Regions from separate parts of the Homo sapiens genome. Here region 2 is linked to region 1. The links come from fine-mapping of genetic effects on gene expression. A gene starts in region 1. The other region holds a variant in brackets. All regions are shown on one strand. Distances are between the middles of the regions.

Region 1 (8,335 bases):
CTCTACCCTCTGGCCTTGGTTGGTTTTGGATCATGGGAAGCACCACCAAGAGATCAGAAAGTAGGAGGTGAGAGAAATCAGGATATTTATCCCTTCTTCCTTTCAACTTCTCACCAGACTGTGGGTCCCTTACCCTGTCAACTCTGTGAAGAGTCCTTTCATTAAATTTTCCCCATTTAAACACATTGAATATGATATCTGTTTCCTGCCTTGACTATGACTCCTATCAGGGGTTTAATAATCAAACCATGAGTCTAAAAAACAGTAACAGACTGTCTCCTATCTTCCATTTTATAAAGTAGAAGAGCTTTACAAAATGTAAATCTGAATATATCATGCTTCTTCTTTAAAACTTCAATGGCTCTTTGTTAACCCCTGTCACTGTACCCAACTCTAAGTTGCAGCCAGACAGAACTAATTTCAGTTCCCTCTGCAACATGGTCTCTCTTCCTTTGAGCCTCTGCACAGACACTACCTCCTTCCTGGAAACTGCTCCCCACCCATGCTCATTATTCAGGCCTCAGCTTAAAGGCCTGAATTCAGGCTTCACTTACCCTAGAAGGCATTCCATAAACCTACTACTTATCCCTGTTAGCTTTTATAGTCTCCCACAGCAGTCTCCACTCACCATCATACACAGACAGCACTCAGTGTTACATTGTACTGCAACTGCCTGCTTACTTCTCTGTGTCCTCCAGTAGACCGTGAGATCTAAGACAGGGACGGCATTTCAAATCCATAGGACCTATTAAGGTGCTTGGCACCTAATAGACACTCAATAAATATTGGATAGTTCCTGAATGTTATTGAAAAAGATTGAACTGTCCTCCTCTGGTCACCATTCTCTCTCTCTTTTCATTCGCTGACAAAAAAATCAGAAAAACATCAATAAAAATATAATTTTTATTTACCCACATTACTTTGTCACTATCTTACTTTTCACTGTCATCTTTTCACTTACTTTGTCACTTTTCATCTTACTTTGTCACTATCTTTTATGATGACTTCTCTTGCCAAGATTACCAATGACCTCCTAGACCTTCAATTCAGTAGCTTCTTTTCAGTCCAAATCCTCTGGGACTGCTCTGCAGCACTCTCTTGAAATGGTCCTCTGTCCTACATGGATCACAGATTGCTCTCTCTCTTTCTTTCTCTCTCTCTTCTCTCTCTCACACACACATACTCACATACCACACACACACACTTTAGTTGATCTGTTTGCATATCTCTGTTTTTCTCCATTCCTTTATAAGCCCCTATGTCTTATTCATTTGCATCTCTAGTACCCAGCATAGTGCCTGGCACACAATAGAACTTTGTAACTACGAATGTTACATGATTAAAACCGTCTGGGCTTCCAGGCCATCTCTTTCTTCATCTCCTTTTTCTCTTGACTGCTTGTTCTTAGGCACCTTCACGATCTCCTCTTTGCCTACCCTTTAAATATTCTTCAGAGTAACTCATCCTTATCCACCTTTTGGGCTTCAGCCATCAGCGATTACCTCAATTCCCAAATGTATATTTTCAATTGCCAATGCATTTTTATGAGCTAAGGCTGCCTCTCTCTCCCTAGATGTACTGCAAGCAGATCCCATAAAGACTCATTATCTCTTCCATTCCCAACCTGCCCTCCTCTTGCTTTCAATGTTCAGTCAATGAAATTAACATTCATCCAGTGCTCTAAATGACAAATCTCAAAGTCCCCAAATGCATCTCACTGTCTTTGCCCCCTGTCCTGCAGGGTAAGAAGCTTTATCCATTACCAAATCCCCACCCCCGAACCTGCCTCTGAATCTTTTTTTTTTTTTAATTTATTTCTCCTAGAACAACTTACCCCACTTTGTCCCAAATCATTTTCATCCTTTGAAATTCAGAAAACTGATTAACTTCAATTAATTGCTTCTCTGAGTTCTACATAGCTTGGTGCTAGGTTGTGTTTTTTTAATGACCTGTCTAAACATGTCTTCCTCACTAGATTGTAAAATTCTTGAGGGCAGTTATTGGCTTTTGGTTATGGGGTCTAGCCGATGATTGACATTTTAAGCAATTTTTTTATATGAATGAATGAGTAAACGAGTAAACTGAGAAAGAAAATATTTTCAATTAAACCCTTTCAGAATTACTGTGGCAGAATCTGAGTGAAAATGACAATAACTCAGTTTAAAAACATGAACATCACGTAACCAACTTTGTAACATTCATTGTAACAATACATGCATGATTACAGAAGGCAGGTAATTGTTATTCCCCTAGGGAGATTTTTTTTTAAGCCTGCTCTGAAGATTTTGTTTTGTTTTTAAGACAGGGGCTTGTTCTGTTGCCCAGGCTAGAGTGCAGTGGCGCGATCTCCGATCATTGCAAGCTCCGCTTCCCCGGCTCAGGCTAACCTCCCTCCTCAGCCTCCCGAGTAGCTGGGATTACAGCGTAGCCATGCCAGACTGCCTGCAGAATTTGATTTTAAGCATTTCAGTTCTCAGTATAGACAGACAAATTTTTAAAGGGAGGGTATTATTTTAACTGCTTCTTTGCTCTTTTATCTTTTGTCCTGGGTGACAGGAACTAGATAAGCTATACCCCAGAGAAAGCGCCTGCAGCAGTACGGTGCCTGGGCCCTTGATAGTCCCTCAGCACATCATTTTCCTTTTTCCTACCTTATCTTCCTTTTATATTTGAAGGCTCGTGAATTTAGAGTACCTAACGGAAATTTTAGTTTTAGGATTTCAATTTGACCAAAACAACGCTGAGATTTTAATTGCCTCTATTAACCCATGGCTCTCAAACCCAAAGGAAAGAAACCACTGGAGGGGGTGGGGGAGAAAGGAGGCGGTGCAAAAACTGAAAAGAAAGGCGGAGAGGAAGCGGTAGAAGGAAGCTTTCTCTGTCGGGTTTGTCTTTTTTTAACCCCAGAAAGGCGTGACGTGCTAACTGCCGTCGCGGGTTAGAGTCCGCGGCCAAGCCCGCGCCCGCCCACAAAGTCCCCGCCCTCCCTCCGGCTTCCGCCCCGCCGTGCGCTGCAGGCCGCGGCCGCTGGGGGCGCCCCCGACCCCCGAGGCGCTGAGGCGGCGGTTCCTCGAGCCTCGCCTCTCCCGACTCCCAGACGGGCGGCAGCGGCGGCGGAGGCGGCGGCGGCGGCGGCGGCGAGCTGAGCACCAAAAGGGCGCTCACCTCCCCGGGCGAGCTGCAGCACGACCGCTCCCCGCGGGCGGTCGGGGTCCGCGCCGCAGCTGCCGCCGCGTTCCGGCCCAGGCTGCCGCGAGAGGCGGCGGCAGCGGCCCCGGCCGCGGCCGGCCTGCGGCGCCCCCCGGCCGCGCCCCCGCGCACAGCTCGCGGCCCCGGCCATGGGGCTGGGCTGATCCGGGGCTCGGCCAAGCTGAGGCGGCGGCGCCCGGCCGTGCGCCCAGCTTGCAGGCGCCTGGCTCTCACGATGATGAAGAAGAAGAAGTTTAAGTTTAAGGTGGACTTCGAGCTCGAGGAGCTCTCCTCAGTGCCCTTCGTCAATGGGGTCCTCTTCTGCAAGATGCGGCTGCTGGACGGCGGCAGCTTCACCGCCGAGTCCTCCAGGTAACTCGCCTCCCGCGCCGCCTCGCCCCTTTCTGCTTGGCCAGGGCTTGTTGGATGGGCAGCATCTCTCCTTGGCCCATTTGCTCGCCTTTCCCTAGGGACCGCTCTAAAATCAGTCGAATTTATTGATCTGCAAAGTGCTTTGCAAATGGGTTCTTCTCAGCTGGCCTTGGTTCCTGCGCTCCTGACTCCAGATGGTGCCTGGTATCTGCTCTTCCCTCCCAAATCCTCTAGGAATGGGAGCAATGGCCAGAGAGGGAGGATGCTTCTGTTTTCTCTTAAGACATTTCCATATTTGTGAAATGCAAAGTAGAACTTGAGCTGTTAAAAACTAAAATAACCCAAACTGCAGGAGTTCCAAGAGCCCAGCTCTGAACAGAAACCTGTGCTTAGCACAATTCCTTCTCCCTTGTAGATTACAAGGGGACTTGGCCACCCACTCTGAGGCTGGGGTAGGCCTGGCCAGGCTTGACTTGAGTCAAGTGCTCCTGGCAGACGAGACAACGGTCTGTGCCTCATCAGAGAGCGGCGTCTCCAGTTAGGCGCTAATGCTGGATGAATTAGTCTTGAAGTGGCCACTAGTAGGTCTCCTTGTGGGAGGGCTTAGAGCCAGATGGGGAGCCCAGGCCCTGCCCTCATTTTAAAATGAGCCCCTGGGCACTCCCAGAGAGAGGCATTAGCAGGTTACAGAATGAAGCTATTAAATAATAGGTGTGGCATTAATAATAGGTGTGGCAGTGTTTCTTGAGTAATTTCAGAGCTACTCACAGGTTGACAGATGTACCCTAAGGTGCTTTCTTTAAAATATATACATAGAGAGAGAAAACAATTTTTTAAATGAACTTTTGAGTTCCTGAGATCAAGAAGGGTTAAAAGTTAATGTTATTTTGCCCATATATACTGGTCTTAGGCTTTATTTCTGCCCTAAAAATATTCTACTTAAAAAAAATTCCGTCATCCCATTTATAGTATAAAGGAAATAATGTCACTGGATTGTGGAATTGGGGCTAGAAACTTGTCTTTGGGGCAATATTGAAGCCTATGGAAGCCAGAAAATGTCTAGTTGGCTAAACCAAAGGATATATGAAATTAATAGTTTGCCGAAGACAGTTTTTAAAATTAAACTGTGGTGACACATCAGTGGATATTCAGCTAAGTATTTTAAACACCTGTAAGAGAAGAATGTAACCTATTTTGGTGCAAAAAAAATATTGGACCATCTCTTACTTGTTGAAAAGCCTAAGCCGATTCGTGAAGGTCCTGTTGGTGCAGGTGACAGTCTTGCCCTGAGGCCTAGACTGTTTTGCTGCAGGGTGCCACCCCCGACGCCAGGCAGTTAGACTGGCGCTCCTGGGCCAGTGGTGACACCTGGTGGTCAGGGCACTTGTCTACGGGGCTTCCTTCCTACCTCAGTTATGTTTATTTGGCTTACTTCCCACAAGTCACTTATTCTTTCGTTGTAGGCAGTCATTTATTCAGCAAATATGTGTTGGCTTCTAAATATATTATCTTATTTAATTCTCATAGCAAGTCTATAAGGTAGGGGTTCCATTTCGTAGATAAATAAACTGAGGCTCAGAAAGCATAACTAACTTTCCTAAGGTCCCCTCAGCTGGTAAGTGCGATGCCAAGATTCTGATCAGGTCTGTGTAACTTCAAACAGGGTGGTGCCAGATAAAGGAATAAATCGTGTGCCATATATGAAAGTTTCTGAATAGGGAGCTTCCTAATGACTTTAATGAGCAAGGGGTATACTCCGCAAGACTTAGAAATGAAAAAGTTGAGTATCTTGGGTTAAACTCACCCCTTTTTCTTCCAATTAAAATTTGACTTTGATCAATTTGATTTTAAGTAAGATTAGGAATAGTGCTCTGTGTAGCCAAACCAAAAAGCCATATAGTATGGGGGAAATGACTCACAATAAGGAGCCTGTGCCTTTGACATTAGGTAGAGATAGTTGGTGTAAAGCTAAGAGCAAGGATTTGGAATGCGGTGAGTCTAAGCCTAAACCCCAGTTCCACTGTGGTAAACCTGGATGGGTTACTTAGAGTCCCAAAACTTCTGTATGTAAAATAGAAACCATCACTGACATGTGGTGGTGTGAGGATTTAGTGAGATGATGTGCCCAAAACACCTAAACAGTGCCTTAGCACCCAGTTGGCATTTAAAGAGGAGACCAGGAACTTGTCCAAGAAGGTCCATTTGCTTGAGATGTTATATTTGATTCCTTTATCCTAACAACTACAAAATTGTTGGTTTGAGAAAGAGACCTCATTTTACAAGAAAAAAAAAAAAGAAAATCTGAAATATCTAAAGGAAGTGAATTATTTCAAAATCACAGAACTTTTAATTAGTGGGTGCCAGTCAAGGCAGTGCATCTCTAATTGAACGCTAGATTTTAACTTCTAAAAAATTGCTGTATGTGCCCCTTAAAAGTCAGGTGTAGTTAACACTGTAACATTTCTCCTGTAAAAATATGAAATGAATTACATAGAAAAGAGGTAATATAGCAGGCCCAAGACTGCTATTCTTAGAAAGGCCTATGTACAAGGCTGGCCCTTGGCTGGCATCTGGGAGCTTGAATGGTAAATGGTTCCATACATGATACAAAACTTTACGTAAATGATAAGAGTGGCTCACTGTGCCTAGACTGTACGGAGTGGTTTATGCTAAATTCCATCTGGAATTTTGGTTCTTGCTAGGCAGCCTACGTGACCAGCCCTAATACAAATTTTGGGCATTGAGTCTCTAATGAGTTTCCCTGGTAGACAGCACATCACAATTTAATTCTAGAGAAGTTAAGTGTGTGCTGATTCGACTTTGTATCTTTTCATTGTAATAAACCTTAGCCATGAGTAGGACTGTATGCTGAGTCCTGTGAGTCCTAATGAATCACCAAACTTAGGATTGGTCTTGGAGACTCCCTGATGGATGAACCTTTATAAAATAATACTCATCTTGCTACAGAAAAGCCTTAGAGGCACACAGAAAATTGCATATATAGATATAAATAGAGAGACCCAAATATATATAGGTCATATGTATTTGATATATATATTAATATATTTGGCTTTGTACAACAACTAAACATGCAGATCATTTATTCTTGGCCAAGTATTAGTTGAGCATTTACCAGGTTTCTATTAATAGCTCTCCATCTGGGATTGTGAGAAGTACAACAAATATAAGGATCCACAAGGGAATTACTTCTAATGAAATTAGATCATAGATGTATAATTGCTTGACAGTAGAAGACAGTGTGACTTAGTGCCCAATCAATGGATCAGACAATATATTGAGTGTTGTTGAAATTCTAAAGCAAAAGAGTTAATTTACAACTGTAATGGTTACTGACAACCACATTGGCATTTCTGTGGAGCACTCTGGGAGGATGAGTTTGCATTGACAAAGTGAGGATGGGAGGACAGCTTGAGCAAGTCATCAATAGGAGTTGATAATAGATCAGCCTGATTGCAGAGCGTTCATGTTGAATGGAAGCAGAAGATAAGATTAGAGAAAGACTTTGAATACTGTTGTAAAGAGTTTCTTTCTACTCTCTTTCTATAAATGAGAGTTGCTTTCTACTGCTCATAGGGTAAAATTAAACCTAAGATTCTTGAACTGAGTTGTTGTGTGGTTAAAGTGGCGTATCACCTGGCTGACAGGCTGATGCTATCTGTATTCAAGGTTGGGTGGGGGGGAAATTAGAGATGGGGAGACAAATTAGGAGGCTATTAAAATAACCCAGGCAGGAGCTAATGAGAACCTGAACTCCGAGGTGTCTCATGTAAGTGACTGATAAATGATAATCTTATGACAGATGCCTTGACGCCACCACAGAAGTAAAGAAGTCAGGAAAATTATTTGTTTTGTTTAAGGGGAATATTGCATATGGTGGTGGAAGATATAGTGGGTTAAGTTGTATGCTTAGCATGCTACATTTGAGGTGACAGCCTGATGAGTAGTGGGAGGCATTTATGCGGTATGTGGATTTCTTAGATGTTGTCTATTGGAGCCATATAGGCCTGCTTACTAAACTTATTTAGAATTTCCTTACATTGTTTTTACCCTTTTAAAGATTATTAGTGAAAAAAGGCCAGGCATAGTGGCTCATGCCTGTAAATCCCAGCACTTTGGGAGGCCGAGACACGCGGATTGGTTGAGCTCAGGAGTTTGAGACCAGCCTGGGCAACATGGCAAAACCCCATTTCTACAAAAAACATACCAAAAAATTAGCTAGATGTGGTGGTGGGCACCTGTAATGCCAGCTACTCAGGAGGCTGAGGTAGGAGGATCGCTTGAACCCGGGAGGCAGAGGTTGCAGTGAGCTGAGATCACCACCACTGCACTCCAGCCTGGGCAACAGAGTAAGACTCTGTCTCAAAAATAAATAAATAAAAATAAAGATTATTAGTGAAAATTAATTTTAGAAGCCAGTTTTTCTTGGTATTGTTTTCAATGAAGAGATTGGAAAAATATAAAGACTAAAAGGTAATTATTTGTAATAAATATTATTAAAATGGTCAGGGTAAATTGTCAGATTTTTACATGCCATAGTTAATAAAATATTTGGAAAATACATTGTACGATTATGGTGGTCTATTCAACTGAGGCTAAATTGTTGTCTAATAAAATACAGTCATGTATCAGTTAACAATGAGGATCTGTTCTGAGGAGTGCATCCTTAGGCGATTTCATCATTGTGCAAAAGTCATAGAGTGTACTTACACAAACCTAGATGGTATAGCCTACTACGTGCTTAGACTATGTCGTA
Region 2 (8,335 bases), 28 kb before region 1:
CAATTTTCAGCAATTTCTGTAACTATGAAAGAGAATTTATTTAATTTAGACTCTAAAATATCCTTCTTCAAAGAGCCCAGAGGTCATGGTCTTGGACCTATAGAAAAGGAAATGTAATTTTTGCATATTATTTGCCTATGCAATGAATATTAATTAAATAGTCATAATAACATAAATTGGGGGGTTATGTTGATATTTAACTCCCAGAATCAAACTGTAAGCAACAGTTTATAAAAGATGGGTTACAATAAAGAAAGAATTTGGCATTAACTCTGAAAACATAAAAACAAAAGTCTAGGCCAGACCCGATGGCTCACGCCTGGAATGCCAACACTTTGGGAGGCCAGGGTGGGTGGATCATTTGAACTCAGGAGTTCAAGACCAGCCTGGGAAACATGGTGAAATCTCATCTCTACAAAAAATACAAAAATTAGCCTGGCATGATGGAACTTGCCTATAGTCCCAGCTATTTGGGAAGCTGAGGCAGGAGGATTGCTTGAGCCCAGAAGGTGGAGGTTGCAGTAAGCCAAGATCACGCCACTGCACTCCAGCCTGGGTAACAGAGCAAGACCCTGTTTCAGGAGAAAAAAATAATAATAATATTCTTGACAGAATATTATGGTAGGTGGAAGGGTAGAAGGTGGAAGAAAGGAGAAAAGGGCCAATAGTCTCATCAGCATATCTCCAGAATGTGACCTCTTCTCACCAACTCCACGAGTATCTCCTGGTCAGCACTACCAGCATCTCTGTCTTGACGACTGTAAAAGCCTCCCGACTACTCCCCTGCCTCCCCCTATGCCTTCCTACAGTTCTCAACATGGAAGCTATACATATCCACAAGTCAGACCGTGTCACTCTGCTCAAAACCTTGCAATGGCTTCTCATTGTACCCAACGTAAAAGCAAAAATTCTTTATATTGATCCACATAGCCCTATATCATCTCACCCTGTTATCTCTCTGACCTCATCCTCCACCACGCTGCCCTTTGCTCACTCCATTCTAGCCCTACTAGCCACCTGTAATCCTTGAATGTGCCAGGCACACTCCTTCCTTGCAGCCTTTGCTGTTGCCTCTGCCTGGAACTCTCTTCCCTAAAATGCTTACATGAATAACATCCTCCCTGCCTTTATGTCTGCTCAAACATCATCTCTCAATGAAGTTAAATCTGACCATCCGATTTAAAATCATTATTCCCACTTTCCAGATTCCTGAACTATCTTTTCCTGTCTTACTTTTTTTAATTTTGAATGTATCAATGTCTACTATATAATTTCTGTATCTGAACACCCCATCAATGTCTACTATATAATTTCTGTATCTGAACACCCCTACCCCCAACTACCATGTAAGTGCCAATGAGCCTGAGAGCTCTGTTTTGTTCACTGAGCACTTAGAACAGTGCCTGTCGCCATACTAAGTATCCAATAAATAATCATGATTATATAAATATAGCCTGGGAGTCAAGAGGTATTATATATGGCTGATGGGACAAAAACTAGAGGTTTAAGTGTTTTATTTAAAGGTATAAAAGCAACCAAGAATAAAACTATAATAATAGCTATCAAAAACTGGGAGAGGGTAGCTAAATCCTTGTTTTTATTATAGAGAATAAGTACAATACATAGAAATAAAGTCTTGAAAGATACACACCAAATTACTTTCAGTTGTAACTTTGCAGGAGGCAGTTTAAAGGAATAAAGGGATAAAAATCAGTGATTAAAAATTTTAATCTTGGTCAGGCACGGTGGCTCATACCTATAATCCCAGCACTTTGGGAGGCAGAAGTGGGAGGATCGCTTGAGCCCAGGAGTTCGAGACCAGCCTGGGCAACATAGTGAGACCCTGTCTCTACAAAAAATGAAAAAATTAGCCAGGCACGGGGGCACATGCCTGTAGTCCCAGCTACCCAAGGGGCCGAGGTGGAAGGATCCACTGAGCTTGGAAGGTCAAGGCTATAGTGAGCCATGGTCACACTACTGCACTCCAGCCTAGGCAACAGAGTAAAACCCGTCTCAAAAATATGTAATTTTTTTTATCAAAAAAGGGAGGCGGTTTTCCTCTGGAAAGTGGGACTGGGAAGTGTGGCAGACAGCTGTTGTTTTTCAGTATAAACTCCTCAGCACTACCTTATTTTTACTATGTATACAATTACTTTGATGAAAATTAAAAGACAATAAATTTTATTTCTTTTTTTTGCTAATCAGCTGACTTTAGAAAATACATTTTTAAGGAAGCAAAGGAATAAGCAGTTCCAGGTTCACTCTAGTACATAAACAAATATCCAATAGATTCCCCAAAGTACCATACTTCATGACTGAGATGATGTTGGCCTTGGAAATTTTCAAAGTGGATGTTACAAGCTGATCACTATGGCTGTAAAAATAAAAGGAGATATAACAACATTAAACATTTGGTTTTAGGTACTTTAACTTCCTGATATGTACCTGTATGGATTTCAAATTTTTCCTCTATTATCTAAGATAGTCACTGTTTGAAAGCCAAGGCCTCCTCTCCCATCCGTTATCTGCTAGGGGATTAGTATAGCATTTTAACATTTGATCTTATTTTCTCCCTTCTGGATCATGTGGATTGGCTTCGCCACCGTATGAGTTTGCCAAAAGCGAGAGTAACATGCCAAACCAAACATCTGTCACTAAACTGCAGGAGATTTATTATTTTTACCTAAAAGAATACTTGCTACATCAAGAATACTGTAGTCATTAAGCCAGATGAGGCCCTAGGCCAGGTGGATGGTGTGACCATGGACACCAAGGTCTCAGAGAACACCCTGCTCTTCCCACTCACAGAGCCCTGAAGGACCCAGCCTCTCCTAGTGGAGTGCTGTCAAGAAAGACAACTAAAAGGAAAGTTCTGATGAGGGGATATGCAAGTCTACAAAGAGTTACTCGAGTCACTTTTATAGTTTCTACAAAATTTAAAGACTGAGAATAAAAAAGGCCCTCAGCCACTTGTTCATTGGTCAGCCCTAGCATCTAACATAAATGCTCTTCCACAACCCCTAGCAAGGCAGGAGGGGGTAATAAAGACAGCTTTTGGCAAGACCTCAGGAGAAAGAGAAATTTTGATTCTCAACACTGTATCCCAGGAGGGTAGGGAAGAAAATAGAAAATTAATACCAAAGGACAGTGTTTCTATATCTCCACAGCATATCTTTAGGATGGGAATCAGGCTGTTACCTTAGTTTCAAAGATCAACTTCCAATAGCAAAGGTAAGGTGACAAGCCATTCAAGGTATTTAAAACATAAGCACTAAAATTTTATCCATGCATTTATGTGTGTGCTTTTGAAAAAAAAGGCCTGTCACTATATTGCAGTCCCCACTGGATAAATATATTTTTTACTAAGTTTATTAGACATATAACAATTTTAGAAGACATCTGTCAAAGACAGTAACTTTAGTTTTAGAACTGTTAATATTATGCCATTTATTTTCTAACAGTGTTTATTATGCAAGGACTGATTGCCTGTTGAGGTCATTCTTGGTTCTCAAAACGAAAACCATATTATTATATAATTACC[C/T]AGACTCCCCCTGCACCATTATCTAAAAGAGTGGGACAAAGGATCGGAAGGTGACCTAGCAAAACAAGTACTTTGTTTTAGAGCCTTTACACTTCAGAAAAATCACTCCCGTGATGCTCAGAGCTTTCAATGCTATTAAATCACAGTTTTCTGGCCAGGCACAGTGGCTCATGCCCGTAATTCCAACACTTTGGGAGGCCAAGGCAGGAGGATGGCTTGAGGCCAGAAGTTCAAGACCAGCCTGGGCAACATAGTGAGAACCCATCTCTACAATTAAAAAAATGCAAAAATTAGCCGGACATGTGCACACACCGGTAGTCGCAGCTACTCTAGAGGCTGAAGTGGCAGGATCACTTGAGCCAAAGAGCTCAAGGCTGCAGTGAACTATGATTGCATCACTGCACTCCAGCCCAGACAACAGTGAGACCCTGTCTCTAAAAAATAAAATAAAATGCATACTTTTTGAAGCATCAGTAACCAGGAATCTCTATTAAGCTTGTATACCATTCTTGTCCTGCTCAAACTCAGTCATCTCAATTCCAACCAGATGTCCAAACCAGAACCCTGGGAGCGATTCTTGTCCTCTCCCTCTGCCTCAGTCTCCATATCCAATCATCCCCCACAAAGCCCTGTTGAATATCATTCTAAAATACATCATGAGCTTTTTCACGCTCTCTGGTTAAAGGTAGTCCAAGTCAACACTGTCTTACATTGGGGCTGCTACAATCAGAATTTTTTAAATAAAAATAGTAGCAAACACCTTATAATCCTTACTATGGGTCAGGTACCCCTCTAAGTGCTTTAAATGCATTAGCTGATTTATTCTTCTCAATAACCCTATAAAGCATTCTAGCACCACTTGAAGATGAAGAAACTGATGCACAGAGAAGTTAACTGACTTTCCCAATATCACACAGCTAGGAAGTGGAGGAGCCAGCTGTCCCCTCCTCACTGACCCTTTGCACTCACACCTGCCATCCTCCGGTCTGATTTCCACACAGCAACCAGTGTGATTGTTTAAACAAGTAACTTTTATACAGAACCAGAAACCTTGAAGTGAGAACAGAAAACAACTTTATTCTTTTCTTCCCAACAGCCTGATCAAACCGGCTCTGCAGGACAGGTTCTTTCCTGGCGCCTGGGGCAAGTCCCTTGACTTTTTTTTGGTGCTGTCAGTTAATACGAATTCTCTCTTTCAGTCGCAAAATGGTCTCATTTCAATAATAAAAATGCCCAGTTCAGCGTGTTGGTTGAAACACTGAATTTCATTACAGTTAATGCTTCCTCCCCACCACCCACCCAAACCCCAAACCTGCTAGGGCTGGCGGCCTTTGTGGTGGGGCTGGCTCCTCTCTCCTGGCCTCCTCCTCTTCATTGTCTCAGCCGCTTCAGCCAGCCAAGGTTGGAGGGGCCAGGAAAGAGAGATAAGAAACAGAAAAGATCTTGTGTGACAGACACAGGCGTAATCTACCATTGACAGACTCTGGCCGTGGCAGGTGTTTAAAGCTGACTCTTACTCTCAGGACTTTTTTTTTTTTTTTTTTTTTTTTTGAAACGGAGTCTCGCTTTGTCGCCCAGGCTGGAGTGCGGTGGCGCATCAGCTCACCGCAAGCTCCGCCTCCTGGGTTCACGCCATTCTCCTGCCTCAGCCTCCCGAGTAGCTGGGACTACAGGCGCCCGTCACCACGCCCGGCTAATTTTTTTGTATTTTTTAGTAGAGACGGGGTTTCACCGTGTTAGCCAGGATGGTCTCGATCTCCTCACCCTAGATAGTCCTCTGTAAGTTCCGCTGATTGGAGCTCATTGAAATAGGCAAAGCCTCGACCTTAGCTGGATGCTTACATACCCACTCCAGCCCCACGTTCAGCTTCTGAATCTGAAGACACGTCTCCAGCCTCTGTCTGCTAAGGTTGTCTGGTGTGGACAGAAGTTCTCTTAAGCATGATCCCCTTTTAAATGACCGCACGTATATATTCCTCCCAAGGATTTCATACCTTGGAGCTGCCAATGCAAACTGTCAATACTAGTTAACTTTCCAAATGCAGTTCCTTACTTTGATGACAGTAAGCTATTTACCAGGTATTTCTGTGACCCATGGACTCCAGAGGCTACAGGTCAAACCTTCCATGTGGTCTCCTTGGAGCACCCCTCACTAGCACACCTGAGGCAAGGTAAAAATACCTGTCCTACCAATCTCTCATGGGGTTGTAGGGAAGACATGATGCATTGGAGATTCTTTCAATGGGAATTTCCAAAACTCAACTATCTCCTTGGCCTTTTCAATTTTAGTTCCTATATAGCCTTAAGATAGGCAGAGGGGTGAAGATCCACAGAAGTGGTTTCAGCACCTCTTTCATAATTCTGCCATAGATGATCTCACTCACTGCACTTTGAAATGTGGGGGTAATTAGGCCCTCAGCTGCAGTGAATCAGGAAGAGTCCCATTTTAACACTCTGTTAGAAATACCACATCATGCCTTTCCATCGCTATTAGCATTAAATACTAAAAAACACTAATCATACTATGTCCTTCCACTGCTATTGCGATTAAACGCTAACTCTTTACCACATTCTATGGAGCACTGCATGATATGGGCCTTGCCTACCTGTCTAGCCTTGTTTCATAACTCTCTTTTCAGGTTCAGCTGCATTGGTCTTCTTGCAGGTCCTTGGATTCTCTAAGCTCTTTCCTACCTCAGGACCTTCATACATGCCTAGGAGATTCTTCCTCCTACCACTCTTGTCCTCATTTGTTAGGTCTCAGCTTAAATATTATCTCATAGCAAAGGATTTTCCTGAAGTATTATAGCTCTCTGCCCCCAGCCAACTATTCTCATTCATATATATTATTTAACTTTACAGCATTTACCACAAATTGTAAATGTGTGATTGTGTATTTTCTTTTTTTTTTTCTTTTTTTTTTTTTAATTGATCATTCTTGGGTGTTTCTCGCAGAGGGGGATTTGGCAGGGTCACAGGACAATAGTGGAGGGAAGGTCAGCAGATAAACATGTGAACAGAGGTCTCTGGTTTTCCTAGGCAGAGGACCCTGCGGCCTTCCGCAGTGTTTGTGTCCCTGGGTACTTGAGATTAGGGAGTGGTGATGACTTTTAACGAGCATGCTGCCTTCAAGCATCTGTTTAACAAAGCACATCTTGCACCGCCCTTAATCCATTTAACCCTGAGTGGACACAGCACATGTTTCAGAGAGCACAGGGTTGGGGGCAAGGTCACAGATCAACAGGATCCCAAGGAAGAAGAATTTTTCTTAGTACAGCACAAAAGGAAAAGTCTCCCATGTCTACCTCTTTCTACACAGACACGACAACCATCCAATTTCTCAATCTTTTCCCCACTTTTCCCCCCTTTCTATTCTACAAAACCGCCATTGTCATCCTGGCCCGTTCTCAATGAGCTGTTGGGTACACCTCCCAGCCGGGGTGGCAGCCGGGCAGAGGGGCTCCTCACTTCCCAGTAGGGGCGGCCGGGCAGAAGCACCCCTCACCTCCCGGACGGGGCGGCTGGCCGGGCGGGTGGCTGACCCCCCCACCTCTCTCCCTGACGGGGCGGCTGGCCGGGCGGGGGCTGACCCCCACCTCCCTCCCGGACAGGGTGGCTGCCAGGCGGAGACGCTCCTCACTTCCCAGACGGGGTGGCTGCCGGGCGGAGGGGCTCCTCACTTCTCAGACGGGGCGGCCTGGCAGAGACGCTCCTCACATCCCAGACGGGGCAGCAGGGCAGAGGCGCTCCCCACATCTCAGACGATGGGCGGCCAGGCAGAGACGCTCCTCACTTCCTAGATGGGATGGTGGCCAGGCAGAGACGCTCCTCACTTCCCAGATAGGGTGGCGGCCGGGCAGAGGCTGCAATCTCGGCACTTTGGGAGGCCAAGGCAGGCGGCTGGGAGGTGGAGGTTGTAGTGAGCCAAGATCACGCCACTGCACTCCAGCCTGGGCACCATTGAGCACTGAGTGAACGACACTCTGTCTGCAATCCTGGCACCTCGGGAAGCCGAGGCTGGCGGATCACTTGTGGTTAGGAGCTGGAGACCAGCCCGGCCAACACAGCGAAACCCCGTCTCCACCAAAAAAATACGAAAACCAGTCAGGCGTGGTGGCGCGCGCCTGCAGTCGCAGGCACTCGGCAGGCTGAGGCAGGAGAACCAGGCAGGGGGGTTGCAGTGAGCGGAGATGGCAGCAGTACAGTCCAGCTTCAGCTCTGCATCAGAGGGAGACCGTGGAAAGAGAGGGAGAGGAGGGAGAGGAGGGAGAGGAGGGAGAGGAGGGAGAGGAGGGAGACGGGAGAGGGAGAGGGAGAGGGAGAGGGAGAGGGAGAGGAGGGAGAGGAGGGAGAGGAGGGAGAGAGCGTGATTGTGTATTTTCAAGTTTATGGCCATATGGCCAGAAACTGGTTAATGATTTACTAAATTATTTCTGTTTTCCTACTGGACATACAGTTGAACTACATATCCCAGCCTCCCTTGCAGTTAGGTACAGCCATATGACTGTTGTAGTCAATGGAATGTAGGTAGAAAAAGAACACACTTCCAGGCCTGGCCTGTAAAATCTTGCCACATCTGATCCCCTATTCTTTTTTTCCATTCACCGCCTTAATAGAGAAGATTTCAAAGACCCAGAAAAGCATACAATCACAAGAGGAAAGTGATCTGAGTTAGTGCTTAGAGGAGAGAGTCCAGTATAGTCAAGATATCAGCAGCAGCCTCACTGGACTATTGCTTGAGCAAAAAACAAATTTTTATTAGGTTAAGTCATTGAATTTTCTCTTATAGAAGTA

Direction of the effects. Positions count from the first base shown, and alleles are read on the strand shown. Sizes are in standard deviations (SD) of each study's normalised expression.
As copies of C replace T in region 2, the expression in tibial nerve of the gene that starts at base 3,096 in region 1 goes down (small effect, 0.14 SD a copy in GTEx).

Evidence for each region. PIP is the estimated chance that this variant, and not a neighbour inherited with it, causes the effect.
Region 2: its variant is the best candidate, but not a certain one, in a credible set for the expression of EEIG2 in tibial nerve (GTEx, PIP 0.85).

The regions. Positions count from the first base shown.
Region 1 is chr1:108,557,005-108,565,339 of GRCh38, forward strand. It overlaps EEIG2 (EEIG family member 2), which reads left to right and starts at 3,096. Exons shown (of 11, transcript NM_001010883.3): 1 at 3,096-3,561. The coding sequence starts at 3,425. RefSeq lists a silencer at 2,757-3,296 and enhancers at 3,687-3,786, 4,250-4,299.
Region 2 is chr1:108,529,028-108,537,362 of GRCh38, forward strand. No RefSeq gene overlaps it. Among named protein-coding and RNA genes, the nearest start is that of EEIG2, 27 kb to the right of the region's middle. RefSeq lists a cis regulatory region at 4,598-5,173 and an enhancer at 7,840-8,134. The variant C/T (reference allele first, on the strand shown) is at 3,542.